Linked DNA regions of Homo sapiens: all the other regions are linked to region 1. Evidence: fine-mapped expression QTL. A gene starts in region 1. Each other region holds a variant in brackets. All regions are shown on one strand. Distances are between the middles of the regions.

Region 1 (8,108 bases):
CTTCCCACCAGCTGCGAGAGAGCGGACCTCACTGCTTCCTGAGATGCTTCCCACATACAACCCTTCCAGCAGGTACACCCCAGGATCCCGTATCAGGAGACACTCGCTCCCCAGCTTCTGGAGCCATTGGTCTGAAGGATTATGCCAGCATCAGAGTCCCTTGCCAGAACTGTCTCCACCAACGGGAGATGTCTCAAAATTACAGCCCTCCCCTGTGGTCAGGTCACATCGAGGGACTGTTTGATGTGGGAATTCCAAGACCTGCACCTACTTCAGGACAACTCTGAAGAGCTATTTTAGTCCCAGAGCTCTCAGTGGGACTTCTTTTATGGCTGCAGCACAGCCCGGCTTCTCTCTGCCAACCCCACTGCCTTCCTCTCTTGCTCGTCTTTTTGCCAAGAGCACTTCTCAATAAACTCCCCTGCACACACATTTCTAATCCTGTCTCCCCCAAAAGCCAACTTCAATCAGTGAAGCACCAAGTTGGACCACCTTCAGCCCCTGTCTCAGCACATAGGCAGTGCTCAGTAAGTGTTCATCACAAGACTGGACTCCTCTTGCACCCACCTTTCTTGCTATTATGACAACAGGTGAATAAGTCACCCAGGCAGAGTTAACCAGAAGAAGTTGGGAGTTGCTGGGAAAATGGATGCTAAATCATCCTCAAACCTAATCAGCAACAGAGTCTCCAAGCCCTTGGGGCCATGAGAATTTGTATGGGCAACCAAAGTGAACCTCTGTGAATGATAGAGATGACCACACATTTCTTGACCCTCTCCATCAAAATGAAGGGTCTCTGCCCCCTCCCTTTGAGTCTGGGTGGAGGAACTTGTGAATGCTTTGAGCAATGGAAGATGGCAAGTAATGCTGTGCCTGTTTCCAGACCCAAAACTTGAAAGATTGGCAGCTTCTAATTCCTGTCTTTTGGAATTCTCTCTGGGATTCCTAAGCTGCCAGGTAAGAAAGCCTACTACCCAAGATAGCCATGTGTGGGCACTCTGATGGCACTCCCAGATGAGCCAACCCTCTAGCCATTCCCTCACCCCTAAGGTGCCAAATATGTGAGTGAAGCTGTTTTTGTCAGTCCCAGATCCATCAATCCACCATCCGAATACCACCTCCTAACCTCGGTCACTCCTACATGGAGAAGAAGAATCACCAGCCAGTGTTCGAACAAATTTTTCACCCATAAAATCATAATACAACAAATGGTTATTATTGTAATTTTTGATGCAGCAATAATAGAAAAACCAGAGCAACCCCATCCTGAAATCTCCCCAACACCTCCTTCTTACCCTCTATGACCTCACTGGGAACAGGGCAGAGAAAGGAATGTGTACCTCCTGTCCATTTTACTGAAGTGAAGGTCCAAGGATCTCAGCCCTGACAACTTGCCCAAACTCAAACATTTAGTTTGCAATGAGCCCAGAAGTAAAACTGATTTCATCTGAGCTTTTCTCAAGTGTATTTCCATTTGATGGGCAGTAGGGTTTTGTTTTGAGAAAAATGAAAAGGTGGCAAATAGTTATTTAAGGAAACCAAATACTGGGGGAGGATGATCTCCCAGGCATGGTTCAAAGGACCACACACCTCTGCCTTCAGGTCTCTGGAAAATAGTCTTGGGGAATCTGGGTCTTAATTAAAACAAGACTTTGGAGGCTGGGCGCGGTGGCTCATGCCTGTAATCCCAGCACTTTGGGAGCCAAGGGGGGCGGATCACGAGGTCAGGAGTTCGAGACCAGTGTGGCCAACATAGGGAAACCCCATCTCTACTAAAAATACAAAAAATTAGCTGGGTGTGGTGGTGTGCATCTGTAATCCCAGCTACTCCGAAGGCTGAGGCAGGAGAATTGTGTGAACCAGGGAGGCAGAGGTTGCAGTGAGCTGAGACTGCACCATTGTACTCCAGCCCAGGTGACAGTGCGATAATCCATCTCAGAAAAAAAAAAAAAAAAAAAAAAAAAAGGACTTTGGAAGTAGAGATGCATCTCCTAACATGTACAATGACCTGAGGCCATGATTTTGAGGAAGTAGGACAAATTCAGATATATTTCCATATTGTCTCCAGAAACAATTCCTAAGTGTCAGAATCTGTGTCCAGATTTTCCATTTGCAGCATGTAGCCATCAGACTTATCCTAGAGTTATTTTCCTGGCTTCTCAAGCTAGGATTGTATTTTGAGGTCTGCTCATTGAACAATTACTTACTACTCAGAGTTCTGAGTCTATGTGGCTCCATGGACTGTACCATCTAAATGCCACCACTATTATGAGAATTCCCATGTTATGAGAGCTACAATGTGAATATCAAAGATCTTACCTTACTTCCTGCTCTCATCCAAAAAAAACAAACAAAAAAAACCTCTTGGAAATAAAACACTTCATTAACAGATGAGCCAAGAAGCCATATCAACGCTCAGCGTCTCCAGGTGATCGCCAAATCTGGATTCTCTGAGAGACGGAAGGAAGCTAAGATGGTTGAGTCCTTACTGTGTGCACATGCCACAGATTTACATGCATGGTCACAATTTCCATGGTATCCCTATGAGATGGGTCTCACTCACTTCAGTTCACCAATAAGGACACAGAAGCATGGAGAGGGTTAAGTACATTGCTCCAGGTTTCCACAGCCAGTAGGAAATGGGAGAGAAGGGTAGGAGGAGGGCAGTGATTCAAACTCAGATGTGTTTATATGAGGTCAAAGCCCATGAAAAGCAGTAAAAATTTCAGACTAAAATAGCCTGAAATAATAGTTACCTATACAAGAAGAAAAAATTCCAATCGCCAATGAGGTGGAAGAGTTTTATGCCCAATTTAAACTAGTATGCTTTTTATTCACATAGATGTATGTAGTGTCAATGTCTACTCTTAGACTCCACATTTCTCTGTGTCAGTGAGGTTACTGGTGCCTTACCTGGAATCTTACAATTCTTGATTTAATAAAATATGTGATTTATTACGCAAGCAAAGTACTGGATCCCATTGTTATGTCTACATAGAAAATACAAAAATATTTATTTGCATACCTACACAGGTGTGCCCATTCGAGAGGCTGGGCCTGGACTGGTCATCGTTGGCTGGAGAGGCCGAGGACTGAAGAGACAGGAGCAAGAATAGAGGCGCCACCGTAAGGATTTTCCAGGGGGACTGCATCTCCGAGCTATGCACCCCAAGTGATCACCCGGCTTTGGAAGCTCCCAACTGAGGGATGCTGGAGCTGAGGCTGCAGAATCAATTGATCTCTCTCTCCTTCTCTTCCTCACTCTCTTTGACACACACACCCCACCCTCTCACATACACACTTTTCAATAAGTGTGAAGTGAATAAAAGCACACATAAACACTCACAGACCCACAGCTTGCTCTTGTTGGACCCTGAGAGAGCCACACACAAAGAGCTGGAGGGAGTCTGTGGTGTGCGGTTCTGCTGAGGTAAAGACTGCAGGATAAAGAAAACCCAAGTTGCACAGTGGCACAACTTCCGTGCTCCCTGGCTCAGTGAAGTTAGTGTGCATAAACCCCGTGAGCCTCGAGGCTTGCCGGAACTGATCTGTTGGGTTGGTTAGGAGGCCCTTCCCCTTTCATTCTTGCAAAACAAAACAAAACGATACTAAAGCCAAAACTGAGAAGAAAAAAGAAAAAAAAAACTAATCCACAAGCACACAACCCTTTAACAATTTGATCAGCAGCACCCACATATTGTAGAAATTCTAATTGGTTACATTCAGAACTTACTTAGTCTTGTTTTCAACAGCTTTATATGGTAAGGTTGTGATCCTTATTTTGTTGTAAAAGGATATTCTGGTCAAATAATATCTTTCCTCTGGAGAAATTGGGTTATTCCTTGAAGGGTCAAGGCCTTTTATTTGGTGTGCAGAAAATAAACAGTACAGAAAATAATGGGCAGTTAGCATGGTGGGATTTTAGACCTAATGAGAAAAAACATGGGTTAGAATTAATCAATTCACAGTTGCTAGGCTGTGCACAATGCATCTTTTTTTTCTCCAGAATTTCGAAGTGCATTTTGTGGATGATTTGTTAAGAGACTGATTTTCTGCTCTGAAGAATAGAACTGAACACTGTCTTTCTGAGGGAAAAAAAAAATCGGAACCAGATCATAGATAAAAGACATATAATCTAAATGTTTCTCTCTAAAATAAGATAAAACAAAATCATATGCCATTCTCAGTCAAGATAAGAGGACAGGGCCAAAGTACCACAGTCTAGGTAAGTGTAGGAGGTCATGAGATTCTGTTTCTCTCTGCTTAGGCTCTGAGGGAGCTTATTACAAATTTTGAAATATTATAGAAGCTATCTAAATTGTTAGCAATTAAAAAAAATAGCATTTGGAGTAGCAGGCAAAGTTTTAGAGTAGCATCCTTTCCAGGATGTAGGAAATACCAGTTTTTATGGTTGGAAGATTTCTTGTGCAGTCATTAGTCTTACAAGCACCGATGGGGCTACAATTCCCAAACCTGCTGCAGAGATAGCACAAGTCAGAGTGTTTCCCTAATTACACTTCCAGCCCAATACTGAGGATATCGTTAGGCGTCCATGGGCCTGTGACTTCCTCTGACTCTAAGGTGCTGCTGCTTCAGTTCTTCACTCTGTGACTAAGGGGAGCTCTGGGGTCACTAGGACCACCACAGGGGTGAGGCCTAGAGAAGTTCCAGAGACTTCCAAGGGAGGCTAAATAAAGGACTGATTGATTAGGAACTCAGATTGTGAAGACAGAAAGGCTCATGCTTACGTCTCATGTCTACTGTTTATTCTGAGTAATATATTAGACCAGTGATGTAACTTTCCCCCCTTCAGTGTCTTGTTTTTGTTGTTGTTGTTGTTGTTTGTTTGTTTTTTGAGACAGGGCCTTGCTTTTTCATCCAGGCTGGAGTGCAGTGGTGTGATCACAGCTCACTGCAGTGTTGACCTCCTGGGTTCAAGTGATCTTCCCACCTCAGCCTCCCAAGTAGCTCATTTCTATTGGGATAATGGTAATATCCGCTCCAATGCGCTGCTGGAAGCACTCGAATACATGATGTATCCAAACAACAAAGCAGCATGGCTGGCAAGAAGTAAGTGCTTAGTGCATCTGTCTATGACTCTAGCAGGAGTGTGATGAAACCTGCACCCCAGACCAGCTTCAAGAGAATTCCAAGACGCCCATGGTAGTTGTAGGCCATCATGTCATACATGGGAAATGGTGAGGACAGGAAAAGGGAGGATTTATTGAATACCTTCCAGCTGTGCTACAGCACTCCAGGAGTGTGTGGTCTAGTTTGTCTAATCCATAAATGGGTGAGGACTCTCCTGAGGGCTTCTGGAAGAGCATTTGACACAGGCTTTGGGCCTCTTGAGGCTCTCCTGGTCTCAATGTATAGCTGCGAGCAGGTCTGGAAACTCTTAGAGTGAGAGGGATTTCTTGGTATGCCGGAAATGCAAGTTTTGTGCCCTTCATCGCATGTATGTGGGCCAGGCAGTGCCATTCACAACCATCCCAGGGATGGTCGGCTCTGAAACTCTCTAGTGTGCTCAGGCTTCGGGGCTGGTCACAGTGGGAGTCGCTGACTTAGCTGTGCAGTATTGAGCAAGCCCCTTCCTGTTTCCAGAGGTGACAGTCCTCAGCTAGAAAAGGGAGGTGAGACTATCTACTTCGTAGGAATATATCATGGTAAAACCTGACACATAGGTTTTCAGTAATGGAAGGATTTTTCATGCTTGGAGGGTGAGTTCTTACTGGGCATGATCAAAGGAAGAATGCAGAAATCAGAAAGTGATTTCGCCAGCAGAAGCTGGAACAAAGTGCACGTGTGCACAGACCACTGAACAAAACATCCCTCTCCGTCACCAGGATGGAGTGGACCCTCCCATTTGCACAGTTGTCCTTCACACTGGCTGGTATCATTGCCCCTGACAGGGCTGCCTTTGCTCATCAAGTACTGAGTGCAAATGACTTGGGATCTTTGCACAGCTTGCCAAAAGGCCCTGGACCTACCTGTGGTTTAGAACAACTAGTCAGGCCCTGGAGAATGTTCCTGCAGGACCCCACTGTCAGATGTTCCAATTTTGAATCATCTCGAAATCTGCTCTTGAAAATGAGATTTCTTCCCTGAAGCACTTTGTTACTGATTTCACTCAAACAGCTCTGATTCAAACCACTGCTTTCCCCTGTGCCATGGAAGGCTAAGGCTTTGTGATCCCCAAGTGTTGCACCTGTGGTCTGCTTGTTCAGTATGAATATGCTTCCTGAATATTTTTTGACCACATTGGCCTCAACCACCTCATCCACAGCAAGTTCCTTAATCAGAAAAAAAAAAAAAAAAAAAAGAGGTGGGTGATGGGAGATCCTGTAAAAGCTGGCACTGTCACCAACACGTGTCTCGTCTTAGACTTTCTCCTCTCTCTAAGGCCCAGGTCCATGCTGCCCTGTTACTCCTGGCTGCCCAGGACTGTGTACAGCAGTCCTCAGTTCCCATCTACCAAAACCAGGCCCTCTGCTGCTCCCCTCCTCCTCAGTCAGAGCTTATTAACGCTAGCCTCATTCTATTCTGTTCTGCTGTCTGCTAAGGACAGGGTAAATTAACCCATGCTGAGGATGCATGGGGGCTCATTAAAAGAGCTCTGGGCTAGGATGGGGGGCCTGTGTCATGGGCTCCCCTCCTAGTAGCTGTGTGCCCTGGGTAAGCTGCTCCACCTTTCAGAATACCAGTTTATTTTACTATAGAATAGGGCATATAATGTCAATATTTAAGAAAATTGTGAGAATTAGAGAGACAACATGAATTTAAAAACATAATATTAACTGTTAGATGAATGTGAAGCTGACAATGAATTCACATTATTCTTCTCAAGTAGCATTGAAATTTTGGGGGAAGTTTTTTAAATCAAGATTTTAAAAATTGCTACATAATAACTGTACATATTTCTGGTGTACATGTGACATTTCAATACGTGCATGCAATGTGTAATGATCAAATTAGGGTAATTAGGATATCCGTCATCTCAAATATGTATCATTTCTTTGTCTTGGAAACATTTAAAATTCTCTTTTCCAGCTATTTTGAAATATACAATGAATTGTTGTTAACCAAAGTCACCCTACTGTGCTATTCAACACCAGGACTTATTCCATCTAACTGTATTTCTGTAGCCATTAATCAATCTCTCTTTATTCACCCTTTCCCACCCTTCCAAGTCTCTGGTATCTATCGTTCTATTCTCTACCTCCTTGAGATCACCTTCTTTAGTTTCCACAAGTGAGTGAGAACATGCAGTATTTGTCTTGCTGTGCCTGGCTTATTTCACTTAACATAATAACCTCCAGTTTCATCCATGTCGATGCAAATGACAGGATTTCATTCTTCTTAATGGCCAGATGGTATTCCATTGTGTACATGTACCACATTTTCTTTATCCATTTATCTGTTGATGGACACTTAAGTTGATTTCATACCTTGACTGCTGTGGCTAGTGCTGCAATAAACATGGGTTTATACTACAAAGTATGTCAGTATACCTTTCCAACATACTGATTTTCTTTTGAATACATAACCAGCAGTGGGATTGATAGATTATATATTAGATCTATTTTTAGTTGTTTGAGGAAGCTCCATACTGTTTTCTATAGTGGGCTGTACCATTTATAATCCCACCAACAGTGTGCTAGTAGTGCCCTTTCAAAGCATCCTTACCAGCATCAGTTATTTTTGTCTTTTTGATGATAGCCATTTTAATTGGGGTGAGATGATATTTCAGGGTGACTTTGATTTGCATTTCCCTCATGATTCATGATGCTGAGCATTTTTAAATATACCTGTTGGCCATTTGAATGTCTTCTTTTGAGAAATATCTATTCAGATCCTTTGCCCATTTTCTAATCAGGTTTTTTGCTGTTGTTTGAGCTCCTTGTATATTCTGGCTATTAATTCCTTGTCAGGTAGGTAGTTTACAAATATTTTCTCCCATTCTGCAGATTGTCTCTTCACTCTGTTGATTGTTTCCTTTGCTATGCAAAAAGTTTTTAGCTTGATGTAGTCTCATTTGTCTATTTTTGCTTTTATTGCCTATGCTTTTGAGTTCTTACCCAAAGAGTCTTTGCCCAAACCAATGTCCT
Region 2 (8,108 bases), 71 kb before region 1:
AAAAACAGGAGGTAAAGAAATAGCCAATCATCTATCGCCTGAGAGCACAGCAGGAGGGATAATGATCGGGATGTAAACCCAGGCATTCTAGCCGGCAATGGATACCCTCTTTGGGTCCCCTCCCATTGTTTGGGAGCTCTGTTTTCACTCTATTAAATCTTGCAATTGCACTCTCTTCTGGTCTGTGTTTGTTACGACTTGAGCTGAGCTTTCACTTGCTGTCCACCACTGCTGTTTGCCGCCGTGGCAGACCTACCGCTAACTTCCATCTCTTCAGATCTGGCAGGGTGTCCGCTGTGCTCCTGATCCAGTGAGGCGCCCATTGCCGCTCTCCATTGGGCTAAAGACTCACCATTGTTCCTGCATGGCTAAATGCCTGGATTCATCCTAATCGAGCTGAACACTAGTCACTGGGTTCCACGGTTCTCTTCTGTGACCCATGGTTTCTAATAGAGCTATAACACTCACTGCATGGCCCAAGATTCCATTCCTTGGAATCCGTGAGGCCAAGAACCCCAGGTCAGAGAACATGAGGCTTGCCACCATCTTGGAAGTGGCTTCTGCCATCTTGGAAGCGGCCCACCACCGTCTTGGAAGCGGCCCACCACCGTCTTGGAAGTGGCCCACCACCGTCTTGGGAGCTCTGGGAGCAAGGACCCCTTGGTAACAAGAACACTGTTTTGAGAAAATCCGTAGAAAAAGAATGAATTCCAAATAGTTTGGGTCTAAAACTTCTAGTTCTCTCTGTCTTTCTAAGAGGCCTTATTCCTAGGGGGCTGGGGACTGGAAACCCAATAGCTGAGGTTAAGTTGATAAATCAATCAGAAAAGGGGTAGAAATCAAGGAATGGTTGGGGAAAAGGATGCAGTTAGAGGGCAAGTGGGGATGCATGGTTTTGGATGTGTGGGAGGTGAGAAGCAAGAGAAGGGACAGTGCTTTCAGACTTGTCAATGACAGCTTTCAGGCTTAGGCCAGCCTCCAGCACAACAGTTCTCACCCTTCAGTGCTCGTCAAAAGCGTTATGCAAATGCAGATGCTCAAACCCTACCCAGGAATACCAGAGCAGGCGCCCTGGGATGAACCCTATGTTTATTTCTGAAAACTGCTTCACATTCTCAAAGAAGCCGAATGCTTTGAACTCTCATATAGTCCACTGAGACCAGATACATCCTCACAAGGGAGAAGGTAAGGTATGTTCAGGACTGCCGTTCTCATCCTATTTTTTACTAAACAAATCTTACAGAGCACCTACTATGTGCCAGGTACTATGCCAGTCCAGGAATAAGATGGTGAGCAAGAAAGACACGGTCCTTGTGTTCAGACGGTATCAAAGAAATAAAGTGGTGTGAGAGAGCAGGAAAGGGGACCTTCTTCAGAGAGGTTGGTCAGGGAGGGTCTTCCTGGAGAGGGGGTACTTAAACCAGCAGGGGAACAAGGCGCTGGCCATGCAGGGAACTGGGAGTTCTAGGGAAAGGGCCCAGCACAAGGGGCTGACGCAGGCGAGGTGGAGTGTGCTGGGTGAACTCTACTCTACCCTGAAGGAGTCACCTCCACTCCTGTTCCCTCCAGGACCAGCTCAGCCCTCGTCTGCTGGGGTTTCTGTTCCTCCTTGCACCCTGTGTGACAGCACTTCTCTCTTCCTCACTGTTTGTCTATAGCCTCCTGCTAGAATATCCATTTACATTGCTATCGCATGCCATATGTGCTGGAATACTGTTCTACTTAATTTATTCTACATAAATATTTGTTGGCTGATAAAAAGAAAAACAATTATTCTGTAGAAAGTATGGGACTTCAGGAAAGTCTCTCAGTTCTCTAGGTATCAGTAGACTTATTTATAAAATGACAGAATCATATTTGTCCTACAGACTTGGGATAGTTAAAAAAAGATAACTTATTAGGGTACCCGGCTGTGGGGATGGTACATGGTAAGTGTTCAAGAAATGTTTGTTGAGGTATGACTAAGTAAGCGAACATGTCAGTGGTTTCATTGTTACTGAGAAAGTTGGGATATTGTGCAAGATTCTTGAAAATTAAGCTGTTTATGATATTTTATGAAAACTAAAACTAAAGCTGCCTTTAATTCCCTCTGGCTCTGAGAAGTGACTATTCTGAATGTGCTCCAGAATCTATGCTAAACACAGGCAGTGCTGATGTGAAGAGCTGGAGGTCTAAAGTCCAGGGCCCTGGGTTGAGTTCAGATTCCACTCACTACTTATGAGCTTTGAGTAAAGGCTTTAAGCCTCAACTGCAAAATATGTTTGATAATTTTACCTATAAAATAGAGTTTGACCTGTGATACTGGGTTAAAATTAGAGATATCAGTATGAGCTCACATCCACATACACACACACAGAGACACACATACAGACACAGTAACAATTGTAGGTATTTGTGTATACATGGGTTGTATACACATATACTTTACTTAGCACTCCACAAAGAAGACCAGGACCTAAGAAGGCCAATAAGCAATGACATCCCAGTAGCAATGGGCATACCTAGCACCCAGATCTTGGTTTCCAAATACCATTTTCCAGTAAAAGGAACCAGGTCTCCTTCGGGACATGCTGATTCAAGGACAGGGGCAGAAGAATATAAGATAACAAGATGAGCCTGGATCATCTGGTAGTACCAGAACATAAAGTAGTATGGAACAAAAAAAAAATAGGACAGAGGCATGTCAAAAGGACACAGGAGCCACCCTAAGCTTCCAATGGTAGCAAAACTGGAAAACTGGAAAAATTTGTGCAATAAAATAGTGTATATTTGAATTATAACTCAAAGTATAAAATACGTATACATGAATCTGTGCTAATATAAATAAATGATTGGCTAATTCAATAAATTAGGGAGGAGAGAGATGTTTTTTACATAGAAGAATTTCAAAAGATATGTGTAGATATTCCATGTTCTGGGAGCAGGGGCTTGGTCCTCCCTGGCCTCACTGAGTGCAGGCTGGACTTAAAGACTCACTTCTAAAGAACTGAGTAAAGGAAAAGGGGGAAAATAGTGACTTTGCAGTTGGGAAACCTGGCAAATGACCCTTTCACCGAGTGATGAAGGGTGATCTCACCAGCAATGCCATGTGGCATCATTTAACCCTGATAGGATGTGATGAAAAGGGTGCTTCACCTCTGTGGTGTTCTTTCCAAAAACCCCTAACACTGTCGAACCAAGATGAAGACATCAAACAAATCCCAATTCGAGGAACATTTTACCGACGTACTTAACCTGTATCCTTGAAAACTGCCAAGGTCATGAAAAACAAGGAAAGATGAAGACTCTGTCACAGACCAGAGGACACTAAAGAGACATGAAAAAGAAATGCAATGCGTGTCCTCGACTAGATCCTGGAACAGAAGAGGACATTAGAGGAGAAGCATGTGTAATCCAAATAAAGTCTGGACTTGATTTGCTACTAAGGTATATACAGTAGTAATACTGACTTCTTTAGTTTTGACTAAGTAATAGTAATGTGTTCACATTGTGGGGAATTAAACTTGGGTGAACAGTATACTCTCTTGCAGTATCCTCACAACTTTTTATAAATCTGAAATTATTACCAAAAAACGTTTATTTGAAATAACAGAGTTTGGGGGAGACTAGACAATAACACATGTGACAGTGTGCTGTGAGCTCATAGGGCTAAAAACAGCATTATGAGCATCAGGTTCTTTGGATTGTGCAGAATGAAATTTAGTGATTACAGAATCTCAGGAAGTGTCCAATTTCCTGTCTATCTGTGATTCTTTTTCTAAACACTACCACCTGAGACAGTCTACTAAAAGAGATGCCAGGTATTTTATTTGACACCTAGTGTTTAAAAAATAAAAGTGAATTCCTGAGGTCAGCTTGTTTATTGCTTAGGCGAAACATAATTTGTCATGCGTCACTTTCTCATATAAAGAGTGAAAATTTACTTCTTGCCAAACCCATTTATGTCACTTTCCTGGTAGTTTGGATTCCAGGGAAATATGATTCCCTGTGCATACACACCCTCCCCCACACTCAGCATCAGAGAGCTTTTGGTTCTTGTAGAAATGCAACTCACTGTGGGAAAAGCTGTTTCAAAGTCTGGGTTGCTTTCCTAAGGCAGCAGGTCTCCCTGCCACCCAGCAGTTCAGGAGGCCCCAGGGAAATAAGGAGAACCTCTCTCCACACAGGGCTTACATTCTGAATATGATTCTCTTTTAATGTAGATCAAAGTGGCTGAAGTAAGTCTTGAGTGTGCCTTGGAGATGTTGGTAAATGCAGCATGTTCCTCCAGCACTGCTGTGGTTAGGAAAGGAGTCAGTTCAAAGCTACGAGGTCTGCCTGGAGATCTCAAGTTCAGGGACCCAAACGGGAGTGGCTTAAAGCTAAGGAGGCTCCAGGATGCTTCTGGCTCAAGCAGGGGCTCATGCAATGTAACATTCTGATCCAAAAAA[T/C]AGAGCTTTAAAGAACCACTGGATACACACGAATAAGTTGCATTCGGTTTTCAATTTGTGAGCTGTGGTGTTAGAATCATGGTTTTGGACATGGTGGGAGGGTTGGGGAGGGCTCAAGGGAGAGCCAGTCACGTGCATGCATCCCTGTGCGTGTGTGCGTACACACACACACACACAGCAGCAGCAATCAATGCGCTGTTTCATGTGCAAATGAGAGGAGCGGTAAAAATAAACTCCCAAGATACGTAACACAAAACCACCTGGGTGGTCTTTGCAGTGAGGCCTGCAGCTATTTTTCCTTCCCTTTCCTTCCTGTCCCTCTTCTCTTCCTCCTTTTCTCCTCTCTCCTTTTTCTTCTTCTTCTTGTACCAGTGGGACATCGTAGATTTTTCTTGCTTTAATTAGTTATGGATGAAGTTTGTCCTTTTTGAGCACACAGTAGATAGTGGTAGGGAGACACGTCCACAGGACCGGCAAGAAGTGGGCCTGGAATTTCAGGTGGGCTGTAGATGATGAATAGGGGTTCACTGTGAGCCCCAAATGCAGTTCCACCTTTAACTTTTGGCCTCACTGAAGCCAGATCTCTGTTGCTCTGCTCTGCTTGCTTCTGCGCTATGAGCTCCCTGCTACAGAGGGGCCCATCCATCCTCTCCATCCCTGCAGCATGTATATCACAGGGGAGACTGCTTGCGTCACATTATTTATATTGTACTAGAGTCTGAAATGTGTGAAAAGCCAGACATAGAGCGTGCAGAGTCCTGCTTATGAGGAATTAGCTGGCCCAGGAGCAGTGGTTCCATTCAATGTGACAACACCTACGGAGTCTCAGTGAGGCAGAGAGCACGGTGAATGAGAATTTGGACTTTTAAGAAAAACAGACCCTAGATAAATCCTCTTGTATTCCTCACTAGCTGTATAGCCTGGGAAAATCCCTTAACTTCTCCAAGTCTCAAAATTCCTCAACTGTAAAATAAATATGGACCTAACAGCACAGTTAAATGAGATCACGCACGTTAAGTGCAGCGGCTGGCAGGCCATCAATAAATACCAACTTCTGCTATTTTCATTTTTATCCATATACCAAGTAAGTATGTGCCTGGCATGGTGGAGAGAACAAAGACAGACAGGCAAGGTACAGGCCTGCCCACCCCCATGTGCTTGCATCTTAGTGAGGAAATCTACGAAACTAGAAACTAGTATCTTGATGTCTCTCTGCCACACCTTCGTCATCTATAAAGGGTGGACAACAATACCTATTCCATAAGATTAAATGCATGAATACACATAAAGCATTTAGAACAATGTTAGCACATTATAAGTGCTCAAACAGTTATTTTACAATGATTATTCAAAGGAGAGTTAACATTTTGTTGGGATAGTTAGGAATTACTTTACAGAGAAGGTGACCATTGACATGAGCTTGAGGGATGGCATGGAGTTGATAAAGGTGATCTGGGTAGAGGGAATGATGAAGATCCAAGGTGTAGGGTGGGAGGGTTGGGGATGGCTCAAGGCAGAGCCAGTCACTTGCTGCTCTCTGCAGCACAGGATTCACAAACCTAAGAGGGAAAGGCAAGTCTGGAAAGGCTTTTGGAAGGTCCTGAAAAGCTAAGTGAAAATTTGTACTTAGTTGTGTAGGCAACGTGGAGATCCCAAACTATGTTCAGGATCATAAGTATGCCCTGGGAAAATCAGTGAGGCCTTCACATGAGGAAAGTCAGAATTTCCATCAGGGATGCAAATGAGAAGCTAGTGGCACTTTACCCGTTCATTGCGTCAATACACATTTCCTTGGTATGTGTGAGGCACCGTCCTAGACACTGGGTATAGAGTGGTGAACAAGACAGAATTTGCCTTCCTGGAGTTCAGAGGATAGTGGTAGAGACAGGCAGGCAGTCACACAGGAATATATCTTGTAAAGTGGCAAGTTCAAGAAAGGAATATACAGGAGCTATGATAAGAGGGCTATCTAATAGGGCCCGCCTCCCTGAAGAAGTGACATGTAAGCTGAGCCATGAACGATGGGGAGGAATAATCCACCAAGTGGAAGGACAGAGTGAGAAATTGCTTTCCAGGCAAAGGGTTGGGCTGGGGTGGAAGGTCATATTTTTCCTACAGCAAGGCATCTGTGGCATCAATGTGGAAAAAAATGTATTAGAAAGAAGGAAAGAGCAGATTTGGTTGGACTCACTGGGACAGTAGTGCAGGAGCTACATCAAAAGATGATTGGGGGAATTCTACATGAAATGATGCTGTTCACCCAACACGGGATGAAACTCACAGGTGGAAGAAGCCAGACACAAAGGAGCATATACCGCGCGAGGCCTTTGATACGACATTCAAGGATAGAGTTTCCTAAAAATGAACTAGCCGGTGGCGATAGACTTCAGAATAGTGGCTACTCTGGGGACTATTGACTAGGAGAGTCATGAGAATTCCTTCTGGAGGGCTGAACATTATCTACGTCTGCATTTGTGTCTTCACCCGCCCTTAGTAGGTAATGTTAGGTCAGCTGAGAGAAAGGACGAGAGAGAGAGACCCAAGTTTAGGCAAGCCTTTATTTAACTTGCCGGCTGCTCTACTACAGACAGAGGAGGCAGTCTTGAGCTTACAAAATGAGGGGTTTATATGGGGGAGAGAGACCCTGGGGTTGTATGTTGGTTAACTCTGCCACATATCACCTTGTGACGTTTATGTACCGAAGGATGTAAGTAAAGTTTGTTTACGTTTTTTATGACTTTTTTTTGTGCGACCTTCCCCTGTGCCATCTGGATGGTTTGTAATTGGGGTTTGCTTTATTGCTGCAAGGCCTGATAGGTAAAGTCTGCTGACTTCACCACGGCACCTAGATAAGGGCTTCGAAATGTAAAAAGGCTTGGGGGAAGGGGAGGGGTGGCACAAAGAGGTTTGGTGGGGGGTGTTGGCAGTACCAAGAAGCTTTTTTGGGGCAGTTTGTCCCTAACAGGTAGGTAATTCCACCTGAGCATTCATACGTGCTACGTAGGAGTGATTTGCAGAATGATAAAAAGGTCTGCTATATACCACTGAAAACTAGATGCTCAAAATGTAATGTTAAGGGAACAAAGTAGGGTATAAAATTGTATATGCATTATCATAACTCTCAAATAAATTCTCAATACAATATAATTTATTTGAAAAGTTAAAAGGAAACACACATTTCGACATCAGTTGTTTCTGGTGGTAGGATTTCAGCTGACTGTTGTAAGAAGACACCCCAGGGGAGTTTCTGAAACATTGACACCACGTTAGAGCTCAACCAATCTCTGAGTAGAACAACCGGGGTGTGAACCCAGTTCTGTTCTTTCCTCGGGAAGTGACTTTCAGGAAGTCACATAACTTCTCTAACCCTCAGTTTCCTCCACTGTAAAAAGGAGTCGAAATGACACCTCCAACCTAGGCCTGCTTGGGAACAAAACAAGATCAAGTGTGAGCCTCTACACCAGCACTGGGCCCAAAGTGAGTGCCCAGTCAATGTCAGTTACTACTATTCAGGGGAAGCTCAGAGGCAGAGGAGGGTGAAGCTGTCCATGTGTATACCCATTGTCCCTCTTTTCTGGGTCATCTGCAGAGATAGAGGCTGGAGAGGGGGACCCGAGGCAGAGGGTGAAGGCCTAGAACAGCCGTCAGAGGAAAGTGAAGGGGGCTGTCCAGGGAATC
Region 3 (8,108 bases), 130 kb before region 1:
CTAGACTGGGTGGAGGGCATTTAAACATATATATTTTTTTATTTTCTGATGTTGAAATTGGGGGGATGACCAAGGTTCTCTCTTCTATAAACCTGCTTTGGCTGGGTTATCTCTGGATGTGTTCCAGGTAAAGACAACAGAGGCTGTAGCAGAGGGAAGATGGGACTGAGGCTAGGACTCAGAAAGTCCCAGATGTCTGTGCTTATTGGGACCCTAAGGAGGCATATGATGGGTCACTGAAATAGTGCAGGCCACACCTCTACATGGGGAGGACTTCTCTTGGTTCTTAGTCATTTCTCCATCCCATAGCTATGCTCTCACACAGAGGGACAATGGTTAGAGTGAGCCATATTCCCACACAAAGAATAAAAACAACACAAAGTTTGAGAGGCAAGAACATATCTTTGTTATGATATGACACAAGGTTCCATGAAAACAGACCCTACCACTCTTGGCTGGGCAACCTTGGTCAAGATTCTTATTCTGTCTATTTGCCCTTGGATCTCTCAACTGCAAATGCAGAGAACAATACCCACTACCTCACAAGGAGGTTAAATGAGAGAATATCTATACAACACTCAGTAAATGCTTGGCATATAGTTACTTGTTACTTCTCAAAGGTTACTTCTTACTATCCCTATTAGTAAGTATTTTAGTATTTTTACACTAATGACAAGGACTAGCCTTTTTTAAAATAACATGATTAAGTTTGAAAAGGTATAACTACACTGGAAAACACATCTCCTTGGCTTTCCCTATATTGGCAGATTATTTCTATGTAAATATGAGTACGCTTCCCTGAAGGTTAGTTCCCTTCCTAGTTTCTTCTATGCCCCTTTTATGACCCCAGTCTCCCATGTGTTACCCACCCAAAGGAAGTGACTGTTGATCACTTCCATGAACTCTTTTTCCTCGGAGCCCCGTGGCTCTGTAGGAGACCTGTCATTAGTATATCTTCCTTGCATTACCATTATTTGTTCACTTGTCTCATCTGCCTTAATTGCAATTGACTACAAAGATGGGACAAGCCCTATCTACCTTTAAATGGACACCTGTAACATCTGTGCCTGATTAGGTGGTTAAGTATTTAAGAAATATTTTTAAAGCAGATGAATAAAAATCATCAAATAAATTATTCATGGCACACAATGTTCTTTGTTCATCAGAATAATTGCTTGTTAAAATGATTAATGTCTGTCCTTTGGGGGCATTCCTGTTCCTTACAGATTTGGGTAAATCACACCCCATGCACACTTGCCCTCCTCACAGTTCTCATGGCTTATCTCATGGTGCTTTCCAGCCTTCTGCCATTTTTGCCTGAGTCAGAGAGGGGCTTCCTAGCTGGTTCTGTCCTGTCTTTAGACCTAAAAGCAAAGCTCTACCCTTTCTTCTTTTTTACACATGGAAGCCATTCATTTGCCATCTTCCTTGTGCCTATTAACTGTCATAAATGTTTAGGAGATGTTGGGAGAGAAATTGCCTCTCATATCTGTGACATTCTCCCATCCAAGTACTAACCAGGCCCTGCTTACCTTCCAGAGATCAGACAAGATCTGGTGTGTTCAGGGTGGGATGGCCATAGACTCATATCTGTGGTTTACTACCATGTTAGGGACACTTGCCAAGTTTCACCAGCATCACAGGTGTCCCTGCCAAGTGTGGGCCCTGGGAAGCAGACCCCAGGCCTTAACACCCAGGCATATGTAGTGAATTGGGTTTGTGTGTCATTCAAACTCACCAGGCCTGGTCTCTACCTACAAATCTGGGGCATTAAAGCCAGGATGATTCTAGGACTTTGAGAAGTGCCAATCAGCTTTGGCCATTATCTTTACAAATTTATTTCTGAGAACAAATAAGTAAACTTTGTTTTTCCTTGAATCAGAAAATTTCAGTGATGTGTTTAGTATTTTCCATCAGAGGTAAACTATGGAACTCCACCCCCACCCTGCCCATAGCAGGAATATGCTTTTCTTGCCAGTGCTGCTAAAATACAATTTGCATTACATCCTACTGTATGGTGGATGAACTCAAATTCATGTTCTAGAAGCAGTTCCTAATAATTCGCATTTCAACATCTTGGTAGCAACCCCCATCTCTTGTTCTTTCCTTACACAGAGGTATTGAAATGTCTGAGGGTGCACAAAGACACTTACCCAACAGTGGAGTCCAGAAATCCTGTAGCACCAGAGAGTTGGGGCCAGTCAAGCTCGTTGGTAAGGGCTGTTGGTAGATTGATGAAAGAGTTCTAAGGAAAACAATAAAGTAGCAATTATCAAAATGGTCATTTATTTTCTAAAGGTAGTAAGAAAATTCATGGCCTGAGTGTTGCTCTCTGTGTGTCTGTTTCCCACTCTCAATCTCTCGCTTTAAGGGCTTTTGGTATTCAAGGCAGATGTCTCTAACCTTCAACTTCATCAGGGAAGTCACAATGATCAGCACCACCCTTGACCTGGCTTCCGCTCAGCTCTTGTGAAACATGCAGAACATTTGGCATCTCAAACACTTGGGAGGGATGCTTCAGCAGACTAAACTTCCCATTCTTACATTTTCTGAGATTTTCTCCATTTTGCAGTTTAGGCCATCAGAAAGTCAATCATCTGAAAAGTAATTAATCTGAAAAATAATGCCTAATCCCTCAGAAAAAAATGCCTTCCCTGGGTTCAAAGCTATGGCCTTAAGGCATTAAGGTGGTGCCCTCTGACCTTCTTGGGGGTCTCAGACATTTTTGAGAATCTAATTGTGGTTCCTTTCCCCACAAAAATGCACGTGTATTTAACCTGGCCTGTGATTTCAGGAGGCTCACGGACCCCCTGCAACTCCTGCACAATTTGTCAAGAACTCCTGATACAAAGTGTTGACAAAAATAGGATTCATTTGAACCACATTTCCATGGCTTGTGCAAAATCAGCAAAGAAAAATGTGATGAGTTACAACCTCATTTTACTCCTTTTATGAGTGACTTCTGGGACTAATCTCTCCTGTGGTCTAAATTTTAGAAAAAGCTTATCTAAATTGGTATGTTTGGAATAGGGCTGCCAGATTTAGCAAATAAAAATAAAGGGTACCAGCCAGGTGCTGTGGCTTGTGCCAGTAATCCCAGCACTTTGGGAGGCTGAAGCAGGAGGACTGCTTGAGCCTAGGAGTTTGAGACCAGCCTGGGCAACATAGTTAAAATTGGTTTCTACAAAAAATAACAAATTTGCTAGGTATGATGGCATGTGCCTGTGGTCCCAGCTACATGGGAGGCTGAGACAGGAGGATTGCTTGAGCCCAGGACGTCAAGGCTGCAGTGAGCCATGATCACACCCCACTGTACTCCATCCTGGGCAACAGAGCAAGACTCTGTCTCAAAAATAAATAAATACATACATAAATAATAAAGGATGCCTAGTTAGGTTTGAATTTCAGGCAAACAAGGAATAATTTTTTGGATTAGTATGTCTCATGCATGCAATGGTTGGAACATACTTATACTTGAAAAATTTGTTATTTATCCTAAGCTCAAATTTGACTGAGTATCTTGTATTTTATCTGGGCATCTTTCTTTGGATGAAAGCTTTAAAAGCCAATATTCCCTTTTTGCCTTCGCTGACTGGAAGCCTCCATGAGTGGCTGCAAGAAGCCTTTGTATTTCTCAATATTGAAAATCCGTGCTCCCTTCGGGTAAATGTGAAAACCTTGAGTCCTCCTTTAATGCTATTTTAAAATTTAAAATAAAGTAATGTCTAAAGACAAGCATGTCAAAACAATTGTAGCTTTAGCATAATTTTCCAAATGGCACATGCCCCTGGCCTCCTGCTTTTTTCCTCATCCATGAAGATCCCTCTCCTAAGGAGACTCTGATGCTAGAGGCTGCGAGGGAAAGAAAAGCCATTAACTCCTTGAAAGTATGTCATTGTTCTTTCTTATTGCAAGGTAGTACATGGGTTTGTTTTAGAAATGCAAACATTATAGTCATTTACAATGCAGAAATGAAAGCCCCCCCAC[C/CA]CCCCGTCACCTTCCCCTAAGAGATAACTCTTGTGAGATAACCACGGTTAACAGTTTGTGTCATATATAAAACAGTTTATACGTGAAATCTACCATAAATCTTTAAACTGGGAAAAACTCAATCCTCCTATTTTCAGAGAGATAGAGAATGAGCACTCAAAATAAATAAAATGCAAATTTATATTTCTTAATTGTGGACTGTTATGGGTTGAATTATGTTTCTCGAAAAGATGTGTTGAAGTCTTAACCCCACCTCAGAATGTGACCTTGTTTGGAAATAGAGTCGTTGCAGATGTAACTAGTTAAGAAGAGGTCATACTGGAATAAGATGGGCCCCCAGTCCAGTATGACTGGTCCTTATAAGAAGAGGAGGAGGAAGAGACAGAAATGAAGACACAGGGGGAAGGCCGTGCAATGGTGGAGGCAGAGATTTGAATGATGCTTCTGCAATCCAGTTAATGGCAAAGATTGCCAGCTGTCTCCAGAAGCTGGAAGAGAGGCATGGAATAAATGTTTTCACAGACCCCCAAGAAGGAACTAACCCTGCTGACATCTTGATCTCAGACTTCCAGCCTCCAGAATTCTGGGGCAATCAATTTACGTTGTTTTCAGCCACCCAGCTTGTGGTACTTTGATATGGCAGCCAAGGAAACTAATACATGGCTTGAATCGGACAATATGCTTGTTGCTTTTATTATTCAAAGGGCTAAGACATGAACCCCTTTACTATGTTTACTTTCAAAATAATTCCTAGAACAAACAAATGTGTTCAAACGCAGCAGCAGTCATCCCATGATATCCTGTATATTTTCTGTGGGTCTCTGAGCTTCCTCTGCTCCTCCTTCTTCAATTGCCTCCTCCTTCCACACATGCCACGAAACCTCCATCCTTATTCTTATCCTAAGTGTGATTTCCAGCACGGTAGGGGCTGGAAGAGGGAGGAGTTGGTCAGGAAGTATGGCGTCCTGGGATGCACCTGTATTAATGATGATTTATCCTCTTTAAAAACCAGAAACAACCCCATAGAAAGAAAGCTCCCAGTAAATCTCAGAGGACCATGCAGTCTCAGTGACAGGTACTTTGTCACCCCTTAGCATTCAGCACCCACCACTTTCTGCTCGAGACTCCACCATTACTGTGACTCAGCTATTATCTGTTTGAGTTTCTATTTCTCCTGCCACTACAAAGCAAAACTTTTCTCTGTGTTTTATCTTATTTTTCCCTACATCTTTCTGCTTACAATGTGTGTTTACTGTAGGATGAGAATATTCATTCTGCCAGACAAGACAAGAAAAACAAATAGAATGGATGAAACTCACAAGATATGTTTAGCAGAGATAGTGAGTAAGCAAGTGGCTTGCGAGATGCAGGCAGAATTTATGAGCTGTGTTGAGTCAGTAACCTGCAAAACACGTTGAAACTTACAAGAATGATATGGTTCTTTTCCACCCCACTCCCTCACCTTTTTCTCTGTCATCCGTGCAATGGCAACTCCAGACTTGGGAAACTGGATGAGGAACTAGGTTTCTGATTCTGTCTGGGACTGCTCTCCCTTTCACAGGAAGGAGTTAGACAAGAACTACGCAGGCATAGGCATACCCTCTGTAGCCTGGCACACTAAGGGAGGGGTAAATAATTCTGAAGTGTGCCAGCAAAGTAGAGAAAGGGCTTTGCTCTAGAAATCGGATGATCTGTCTTCTGCGTCTGGCTCTACAAATACAAAGAAGAAACACAAATCAAGAAAACTCCATGATTGGATCTGACACCACTGGAAATAAGTTCCATACCCCCGGCAACCCTCATTCTCGGTCAGGGGTGGGTGATGAACTTCTTGTCTTCAGTGGCGGAAGAGGGGATGTCGAGAGGAGGGGTAGGGTAGGTGGGAAAACGGCAGGCAATCCTGTCTTGGGAAGTGGGATCTCCATGTTGCTAACACTCTCCAAGCTCAGTTCTCTGTGGATTAATCTGAAGAAATGGGACTCAGCTACCTGGGAGATTCCTGGAATCCTTGCTGATATCTCAGAAACTAGTTAGTCTTGGAATCATCCCCATTAGGATTTCAGCTGGAGTGGACAGTGGCTGGTGCTGAATCACAACTGGGGCCAGGGTGAGTTTGTATTCCTCAGCGGGAGCCCTGGAAGGCCCAGGCAGACCAGGTCACTCGATGAACTTCAAAATATAGCAAACCTGTGCTTTCCTGGTTGAATGTTTTAGACTTCACTTCTGGTGTTAAGCCAAGGCTTTACTGTTATTAGTGTGCAAACTTGGGGAAGATGTATTTCAGTTTCAGTATCTCCAATGACTATAGAAATATCACCTTATTTACTTCAGCAAAACTGTGAGGAAGACCAAAAGACACAGTCAGAAGCAGGTTGACAAGTCAGAGCCCTACTATGTGAAGCATCATGTTTAGGGCAGACCACCTAGTGTCCCTTTCCAAGTGAACTGTCCCAGGTTTAAGAGGAGTGACATTTATTTGCCAGATAATAGAAAAGGTTTGAGCACACTAATAGAAGCCTTGGCATATTTTTTTTCCTTAGTAAATTTGGTAGATAAAAATGAAAAGTAGTGGCTATTAATAGCAAATGTTTTATAGACCCTAGCAAAAAGAGAATGTTTAAGTCCTATCACATTAAACACTAAAAGCCTTATTCACGCAACATTATATCCAAGATACTTCAGGCATTTGAGGCAGGAGGAATGCAAATTAAGATTTTCCTCATCAACTCCTGCTTATTCCTCTTGAGCATTTATGTTCTTAGGAAACTCGTTTTAAATGTACCTTAAATGTACATATGTGAAAAAGACTGAATATTTACCAAGAAAAATTTTCCAAACTTAAAGAGCGTGAGCAACCTAGTGAGTGTTAGATCACTACCGCATTGCTTCAAAATTTCTTCTGACCTTTATCAATGATAGATATTTATTTTTACAGCATAGTTGGCACATGTTTACTATTTTGTGTAATAGTTTCATTTAACGTTTCCCTGTGTGTGGGTATGTGTGTGTGTATTTCCATGCATCGAGAAAGCCCACTGGTTCCCATTTTTGATGGATATTTAGTAAATACAATAATTCGAATTTGGTAATATTTTAAGCCCTAATGTCAGCAAGCAATTGATGTTCTTAAAGCTTTGTTGTGTGGGAGAAAGAGAGTAATGACACCAATCCCTCATTCATCTGATTCTGCCAGTCTTCCAGCAAAGCAGGGAGTATCCTCAGTGCCTTTCCTTCACTGTTTACATTTGGGCTCTCTCCATCCTGCACTGCTGTGGACAATCTACACAGTATATTCCCTTTTCTATTACATGTACCTGCATTAGACCTGAATGGATTATTTTCAAACAGTACAAAGTCACTTGGAGGAATCTAAGTAACTGCTGTTGGAAAAAGATAAAAAATGTCATCACCAGTTAAATAAGCATTGTTTTATCCATTCCCCAGAATTAAAGTCTCAAAGCAGATGGGGGATTGTTACTTTACCAAAAAAAGAAAATAGCTCTTGGGTTGGTATTTTTAATAACGCTGGAGAGTTTCAAGGCCCGGGAATCAAAGACAAGGGCTACCTGCTTAGCGTTGGAACCATGGGTCTCCCAGTTCCGCTAGTTGGCTCCTCCTCCGTCTGTCCTGCAGTGGCGCTTGCAGAAGGTAAGCAGGGTTCCTCCTGCTTTCTGCCTCTCAGTCCCACCGTGCCACCACACTGCCTCCCATCTGCTCAGGTCCCCACCGCTCCCATTACCTTAGTGCCTTTCTTGTGGGAGCACCACATTATGCAACTTTCAGAGCCTTCCTTGGCTTTCACACACACTTTCCTGCCAGACTCCCATTTCTGTAGCCTCTGCTGCATGAATCTGTCCTACAAATAAATGTCTAACCTACTCATGATGCTTGGATGTGCTGTTTCCCAGATAACTTGCATTAAGCGAGAGTGGGGAAGAGAACTAATGCGGGGTTCCCCTTATGTGCCAGGCACTGAGACAGGAAAAACTTGCACAAATTGTTCAATTCAATTACACAACTCTGTGAGGCAGCCTTCCTCCCTCCTCTCCTCCCTCTCTCCCTTCTACAAACACTTTAGAGCAACTACCATGTATCAGATTGGATATTCCCTCTAATAAAGA
Region 4 (8,108 bases), 140 kb before region 1:
TCCTTGAATCTAATACTAATAAACACAGAGCTTACGGAAAAATTTGACACCAGTATCAGGCTATAATTATATATATTTTAACTCATTTTCTTGGCTCCTTTTTGTCTCATCTTTGATTTTTCATTTTCTTTCGCTTAATATAGATGTAAGTAGTTTAATTAATGCAACAAAATTTAGTTTAAATGTAATTAAATGTTATGTTCTCTAAACTTTCATAGGCTTCCTAAAATCTTTGAAATAAGACCAGATGTAAACTAAAAAATAATAACTTAGCTCAAAATATTTGAGTAATCTTCAAATGTATTGTATCTTCTTTTCATTATAATAAGTTCACATCTCACAACCTTACATACAATCACCAATTATTAAGTGTTATATGAAAGCTTACTAATTGTATTACAGTGCTTGGCAACTGTCTCAGTGCTTCAGAAAGGTAAGCATATATTATGTTTGGGCATTCAGGATGCATAGAAAATAGTATCCCTTTTTTGAAGTCTGAGAAAACCAATGATAGTGTTTTTTAATACAAGACCAAGATGCCTGAGCAATATTTTAAGTGTGAGATTTTTGCTTTGTAGTAGAATTTTGAGATGAATAATGTATTTATTTTTTAAAATCAAAGCTACCCATGCACATAGTTTAAAAAGTAATTTACTTAATAGATGCTTATTGAGCACCTGCTACATTCCAAGTATTATTCTAGGCACTGAGTTATATTGGAAAATTAAAATACATGATCCCTGCTTCTGTGTTGTTGATATTTCAACAGGAAAAGGCCAATAAAAGAACTAAACATTATAAAAAAGCAAATGATAGAGTATGCTAGAAAGTTCTAAATTCTATGAAGAAAGGAAATGAGAATTAGAGTAGCCAAAGGAAGTCTAATTGAGAAGCTAAAATCAACAAAGACTTGAGGTGGTGAGTCTCACAGAACCAAATAACTTACCTATGTGTGTATATAAGACTTGTGATGATAAATAGCAACCCCACACCTCCCTCCACTCTCCATTTTTCCATTTCCATAGGCAACTAATTCCAGCCTTAATTGACTAGGTCTTTTGATGTTTTTCTCCTCATCTCTAAGTAACATACTTTTAAGGCTACTTCTTGATTGTTAGTCTTTGACATTATCTGTTCACTTCCTACTCTAGAAGAGGATTTAGCTATTGACAACTAATCAATGATTGCTTTCTAATTTCTTTCTAACTTTTTTATTTCTGTAGAGTTAATAACTGCCTTTTGTTTCTTTCCTTAATTTTCTAAGTATTTATCATTGTATTAGTCTATTCTCATATTGCTATAAAGGAATACCTGAGACTGGGTAATTTATAAGAAAAGGGGTTTAATTGGCTTATGGTTCTGCAGGGTGTAAAGGAAGCATAGCAGCATCTGTTTCTGGGGAGGTCTCAGGAAGCTTCTAATCATGGCAGAAGGCAAAAGGGGAACAGGCATGTCACATGGAAAAAGCAGAGCAGGAGAACAAGCAAATGTGCTACACACATTTAAATGACAAGATTTCATGAGAACTCACTCCCTATCCTGAGGACAGTACCAACAGGGATGGTGCTTAACCATGTGTGAGAAATCCGCCTCCATGTTTCAATCACCTCAAATTTTTCATAAGCCTAAAACTGCTTAAAAAAAAAATGGCCCTATGTAGCTGAACTGAACTCAGCCTTGCCAGCTGTCCCTTCCCAGGCACATCATGTGAGTGAAGCCATCTTGGATTCTCCAGCCCAGCCCAGCCCAGCCCAGCCATTAGGTGATGTCACTGAGTAACCATAATTTCATATAGAGAGGAATAATTGGCCAGCCAAGCTCTGCTTGAATTCCTGAACCCCGCCCCCCCCAAATTGTGAGATATAATAAAACGACTATTGTTTTAAGCCATGAAAGTTTGGGGCAGTTTGTTATACAACAATAACATAAATCTGTATTAGGTATTAGTCAGGGTTCTCTAGAGGGACAGAACTAATGGAATGAATATATATATATATGGGGGGGTTTTTAGTATTAACTCACACTCTCACAAGGTCCCATAATAGGCTGTAGGCAGGCTGAGGAGCAAGGAGAACCAGTTCAAGTTCCAAAACTGAAGAACTTGGAGTCTGATATTCAAGGGCAGGAAGCATCCAGCATGGGAGAAAGATGTAGCCTGGGAGGCCAGGCCAGTCTCTCTTTGCACATTTTTTCTGCCTGGTTATATTCTAGCCATGCTGGCAGCTGATTAGATTGTGCCCACCCAGATTAAGGTTGGGTCTGCCTTTCCCAGACCACTGACTCAAATGTTAATCTCCTTTGGCAACACCCTCACAGACACACCCAGGATCGATACCTTGTATACTTCAATCCAATCAAGTTGACACTCAGTATTAACCATCACAGTTATGATATTTTTCCCTCACAAGTCTGAAGGAATTGATTGATTTTGGCTTTTAGCCTCCCCAGCATTGTTAAGTATGAAGCAACTCTGTGTCTTGATCTTTTGAAAGCCTATGGTAGCACCTCATTCCAAGTGTTCTGAAATGTTATGATGGCAGTCTTGGTGTGTGTCTGATTTTACTCATAGTGTTAGACCTTTGATAAACCCTTTCAACTTGGAAATTCATGATGTTCAGTTTTGAGAGATGTCCTTAAATTATTTCACTGATGATTTCTTCCTTTCTCTTTTTTCCCTACAACTATTGGGTCATCTGAACCGGTCTTGTAATTTTCCCTGTTTCTCTGTCCTATTTTCATGTCATGGACCTTTTTCTCCATTTTCTGGATAATATCCTCAACTTTATTTTTTAATCTTTCTATGAATGTCGTCTGCTATTACCAGAATAATTTCCAAATGACCTTATTGGTTCTCTGAATATCTTTTTAATTTTAATGTTCTTGTTTTATGAATGTAACATCTTCTTTTATCCTTTTTTGAAGCACTTGTCTGCTATAGAATTCTTTTATCTTTTTGAAGATATTAATTTCAGTTATTTTAATATGTAGGCTATTAAACTTTCTAAAAAGTTTTATCCCCCTTAGTACATAGTCTGTGTTTCTCTAAGTTGCTTTTTTTCCCCTTTGTTTCTGTATTTTCTTTCATGTTTGAGGTTTCCTTCAGATGTGTGATGATCCTGGGTTATAGGCTTATTTTTAAATGTTGAAACTAGTTGCCAGCTAAAAAGCTAATTGATTTTGATTGGAAGCTGGGCCCCTGGCTGTGCTTGTTGACTACAGCCCTCACTGCAAGATGAGCTGTCTGGGCCTTTCTTGGGGAACCCTGCTGTCAGCATCTGTGGGACTCTCCTCTTGGGCTGTTCAGATTCCCCAGGGAAGGATCTTCTAGTCTGCAGCCAGGAGAGTACAGGCTGGGTTGGCAACACTCTGGGGCATGTAGGGAAGGGTCCTCAACATTTAGCATTCATGTGTTTCCGTAGGATACTCCTCTCCTCATTTATGTTTGGTGTCTTCCAGTCCAGAGGCCCTTGACTTTAGTGTTTCCAGAGAATAAAGCTCTAGTCTTATTCCAGAGTATGGGAGGGGCAGTTGACCACCTGTGGAGAGTTGGAAGGGGTCTGAGGAGCTAACTGCTCTTCAGCAATCTTCCAACCAATACTTCTGGTTTAGCCTCACCTGCATTTCTACAGCTCCCACATGTAACCAATCCCCAAGTCTTCTGGGGCTTCTGCAGTGTGAACTGGGTTGCTTCTTGGCATTCCCTCCAACCAGCTTAGGATGCAGCTCTCCTGAATCTACTAAGTCAGTTACCATTCATCTGTCTGATTTCTAGCTTCCAACGTTTTGTGGCTGTTGGCTCTTCTTGTTCTCTTCGTCCTCTTGGACAAATTCATTTACTGTCGTTAGAGTAGGGCTTTTCAAGGGAGAGATGTAAGTGCTTGTGTTCAATCTGCTATCTTACTCAAAAGCCTGAAATGGATACCTTATACACTGCGTCACTTATGCCCTCTGCCTTGAGTATTTTATTATATTTTGGAAAAACAGATGGGAAATGGACACTGGATCTGAGTTTGATACTAAAATAATTTTATGGTCAATAAAGAGGGGTTATTTTTCTTTGGGAAAGTAATTCTTACCTATTTAGTCACAAATGTATTTTTGATCATTCTGAGAATGGAATTTATATACCAAAATATTGTTTTGCTCATGTCCTGCTCATGAAGAGTAAATAGTGTAGGTATTAATATTATAGATACAGTTAGTTGCACCTTTCATTATAAGAATATAGAAATCTTTACCAATAGGAGATAGTTCTAATAACATTTCTGACTAGAAATAGCATCTAGAATTTTGGGATGAAAGCCTTGTACCAAGCACTAGAAAGTATTTCACATAGTAAAAGATACTGCTTTCTTTCATCCCCATCCCGAATCTATAATCTCTCTTATATATTTTAGGAACTGCATTTCTCAAGGAGTGCTCAGAAATCCTGAGTATATAGTGGGATCAATATAATATTTTGATATGCCTGCAAATTGAGA[A/G]GATAGCTTAATAGAAAATTATATATATGCAGGGTCTTGAGCTTGTAGTCATAGGACAAGCTGAGGCTACTAGGATGCTATGCATAATGAGGCTAAACTATCATGATGATTCTGGCCTCAAATCCTCTTCCTCTTGCTCTCCTTTCTCCACAAAAATCCAGTGTTCCAGTGTGATCTTTTATTTTTCTCTTTCTGCTCTGTTGTATATATCAAAATCCGGTCCAATGTGCTAGGAGGAGGTGACTGCTTTTGGGCTTGTAAGTTGAGGGATGCACAAGACGGGTACTTAAAAGTTCTTTTCTCCACACTTTGCCCAATGCCTACAGAACTGAATCCTCAACTCCAGGCATAGGCATGGAAGTGAGTCACGTTAACTTTCCAGTTTCACCAGCTCCTTCTACTGGAGGGCCTGGCAGTACAGGCATTTCATGTGAAAACACACTGATTGGGTTTTGATTTCTAGCACCGTAATTCAAAATGAGTAAAACTCAAACAGAATGGCTGTTACTCTTCCCAACATTGGCTCAGGGAACACAAAAAAATCACTTTTTCTGAGAGCTTCCTAATGCCTTCCCCCACTGCATTTCGGTAGAACAAAACAGAGTAATATCAAGAATGGGCCTCAAGAGTAATGTAGACAAATTAAACAGGTTGATTTAAAATGAAATAAAAGATGGCCTCCCATGTTGACTCAAGGCAGAACCTATTTGGAGAGAGGCAAAAATGGAGTTCTTCCAAAGGCTTTGTAGCCTGCCAGAGATCTCTGAGGTAAACCAGATGTGATATGATTCAAGCAAGAGTGATGTAGCATATTCTGATGAAATTTCTTAGTCAGTGTCTTTTTTTTTTTTGAGACAGAGTCTCACTCTGTCACCCAGGCTGGAGTGCAGTGGCATGATCTCGGCTCACTGCAACCTCCACCTCCTGGGTTCAAGCAATTCTCCTGTCCCAGCCTCCTGAGTAGCTGGGATTATAAGCGCATGCCACCATGCCCAGCTAATTTTTGTAATTTTAGTAGAGACAGGGTTTCACCATGTTGGTCAGGCTGGTTTTGAACTCCTGACCTCAGGTGATCCTCTTGTTAGGCAATTTCTGACTCTGTCCAGAGGCACAGCTTGCTTGGGTATAAATTATGAGTCTCCATTAAGTTGAATCTTAGGGAATAAGTTACAAAAAACAGGCTCCAGCAGTAGGGTTGGTGAGAAATACCTGGGGATATTTGATGTGAAGAGTTAGGGAGGGGAGTAAATTAGGATAAACTTGGGTAACTTAGAGACTAGACAGGCTTTAAGGCTTTATCCAGGGACCTTTTCTGCTAGGAAAATTTAAGAAAAGGGTGGATAACTTTCTTTCTAATGTGGATGGAGGTCAGGCCAGCATAGGGCCAGGGAGATAGATTAAAGACCTTTTAAGATTCCTTTCAGTCCTTTGATATTAGCCACATCCCAGAGTTCTGTGTAACCCCTAACTCACTACATCATAGAACAACTAAGATGTAGCCTCAGAGAGTGATAAACATACAGAATATGACTCACCGTGGACTCAGAGAGACTGGCAATAAGCTAATTATGCAGAGGTGAGGATGGCTACAGAGGAGGTCCTAGGAGTTCACATACAAAAAGATTAGCAGGACAGCATGATAAATTTTGAATTTGGACCAGAAAAATAGTACAGGGAAAAAGACTTCATAGGCATTGTGTTCAATAATTCATGAGCTGCTGGGCTCAGACAAGGCTTCCTACCTGTTAGGTTAACCTCTCACTAAGATTTCCTCCCCTCCTGTTCTCTGAGCTTGAAGCAGGTGTAGCTCTCTCCATCCTGGCCTTTCCCAGCCCCAGATTTGATTCTAGGCCACTGTATTAGGGTGAACATTAAACTGTGATAAAGTGGAGACATTTAAGGCTGTGGAGGCTTATACATCTGAAAAGATTACTTGTGACATAGCAGATGGTTTTAATGACCTAAACGGCATTTCTCAAAGGATGTTCTGTGAAACACCAGTTTCTTTGAATTTTTCTCATAAAACACACACACAAATTCTACATAGTTCTGTGGTCAAATAAGTTTAGGAAATGTTTTATATATTTTTGAATGTTTTATATTTTTTGAGGATATACAATGCTTTTTCGCATAGTGAAGGCTATAATAAGCCTTATACCAAATAAGCTTGTTTCCCTTTATTTAAATTAACATTTCCAAAACTTATTTGACTTAACACGTCTTTTAAGAAATGTGTGTTAGTACCCTTTAACATTTTGTGGAACTCATATTTCGCAGAAGAGTTTATGAAGAATATTGATGAATTATCTCTGTGATCTGTATTTAAGCATTGAGGTGGCCTAAAATCTCAAGTTCAGTTGGTTACAACGATTCTACTAGAGAAATCTGTAGAGTGTTCATTTACTTTGATTAATCTGGGTTGCAAAATTACATCATTCTGGGCAAAAATTCACATCAAGGTTTGACTTATCATTAGCCAAATTCACTTCTTAGCAAATCTCTTTATTTCATTTTTTCCACTTGGCTACTGAATTGATGTTTCTTTTAAATTCATTTTCTCCTATTTGTTGATTACATATGGCTAATATTTTAATGTTAATTGTGTGATTTAATATTTTAATTAATTTTGCTAATTTCTTGCAGAATACTTATTATAGGACACACTTAGAATTCCAAGGGTTTAACTTACGCTGATTTATTTTTACATATTTTTACATATCACATCATGCAGTTGCTAATTCAGCTATACTCCTTTGCCTATTTCCCCCAAAATGTTAATCCCAACAAATCTTATTTGATTTAGATAATCTGACAAAATGCACATGAAGGAGGTTTGCAGATTGTAAAGCACTCTACATGGGCAAACTGATATCCTTATGAGCTGGTTCAGCAATTCTTTTATTGAGCACCTGCCATGTGTCATGTACTGTGCCAGGTAAGAGGGCTACAAAATGAAGTCACCTGATTCCCATACTCAGGATGCTCAGAGTCTGGGCATGGGAAGGTGGAGCATGAGACAAGTAGTAAACAGGTATTATAAGTGAGGTGACATTGGTATTGAAGGACATGATAGGATCTCAGAAAATAATCATCCAGTTAGATGGGGGGTCAGTATGAAGGGGCTGTCTGGAGGGGTATAAAAAAGAAATGTAGCTGAAGACAGAGAGGCTGGGGGATGATCCCTGAGGGGTAGGTGCTGCAGCATGGGCAGAGGGCGACTAGATAGGACAAAGACAACGGGCGATGCCTGTGAAAAGATGCTCAAACTCACTAGTAGTCAGGAGGTTACAAGTGAGAACAACAATACAATGTTGTTGTTATAGTGGAAAAAATTAAGAAGATGAACAATATCCAGTATTGGCAAGGGTGTGGGAAAACAAATATTCTCATATACTAATTGTGGGAATATAAATTGGTATAGCCCATTTGGAGGCCTTATTAAAATTAAAAATGTAAACATTTGGGTCCAATAATTTTTTCTTAAGAAATCCTCACACATATTCCAAAGAGTCAGTACAAAATGCTCATTGCAGCATTACGAAGAATAATGATACTCTGGATATAAGTTGGATGTCCACCTGTAGGAGAAAAAAATAACTATGCTATGAAACACTATGCAGTATTGGA

What was found. PIP is the estimated chance that this variant, and not a neighbour inherited with it, causes the effect. A credible set is the group of variants that fine-mapping cannot tell apart.
Region 2: its variant is the best candidate, but not a certain one, in a credible set for the expression of AOAH in whole blood (INTERVAL, PIP 0.84).
Region 3: its variant is the best candidate, but not a certain one, in a credible set for the expression of AOAH in activated naive CD4 T cells (Schmiedel 2018, PIP 0.90).
Region 4: its variant is the best candidate, but not a certain one, in a credible set for the expression of AOAH in whole blood (TOPMed, PIP 0.76).

What each region holds. Positions count from the first base shown.
Region 1 is chr7:36,720,997-36,729,104 of GRCh38, forward strand. AOAH (acyloxyacyl hydrolase) reads right to left here and starts at 3,498. Exons shown (of 21, transcript NM_001637.4): 1 at 3,026-3,498. The coding sequence starts at 3,152.
Region 2 is chr7:36,649,539-36,657,646 of GRCh38, forward strand. The region is part of intron 4 of AOAH (acyloxyacyl hydrolase); the gene reads right to left. Among named protein-coding and RNA genes, the nearest start is that of AOAH-IT1, 53 kb to the left of the region's middle. RefSeq lists an enhancer at 4,362-4,906. The variant T/C (reference allele first, on the strand shown) is at 4,431.
Region 3 is chr7:36,592,186-36,600,293 of GRCh38, forward strand. It overlaps AOAH (acyloxyacyl hydrolase), which reads right to left. Exons shown (of 21, transcript NM_001637.4): 12 at 2,154-2,245. It overlaps AOAH-IT1 (AOAH intronic transcript 1), which reads right to left and starts at 7,935. Exons shown (of 3, transcript NR_046764.1): 1 at 7,558-7,935; 2 at 5,976-6,121; 3 at 5,649-5,697. The variant C/CA (reference allele first, on the strand shown) is at 3,988.
Region 4 is chr7:36,577,531-36,585,638 of GRCh38, forward strand. The region is part of intron 12 of AOAH (acyloxyacyl hydrolase); the gene reads right to left. Among named protein-coding and RNA genes, the nearest start is that of AOAH-IT1, 19 kb to the right of the region's middle. The variant A/G (reference allele first, on the strand shown) is at 4,482.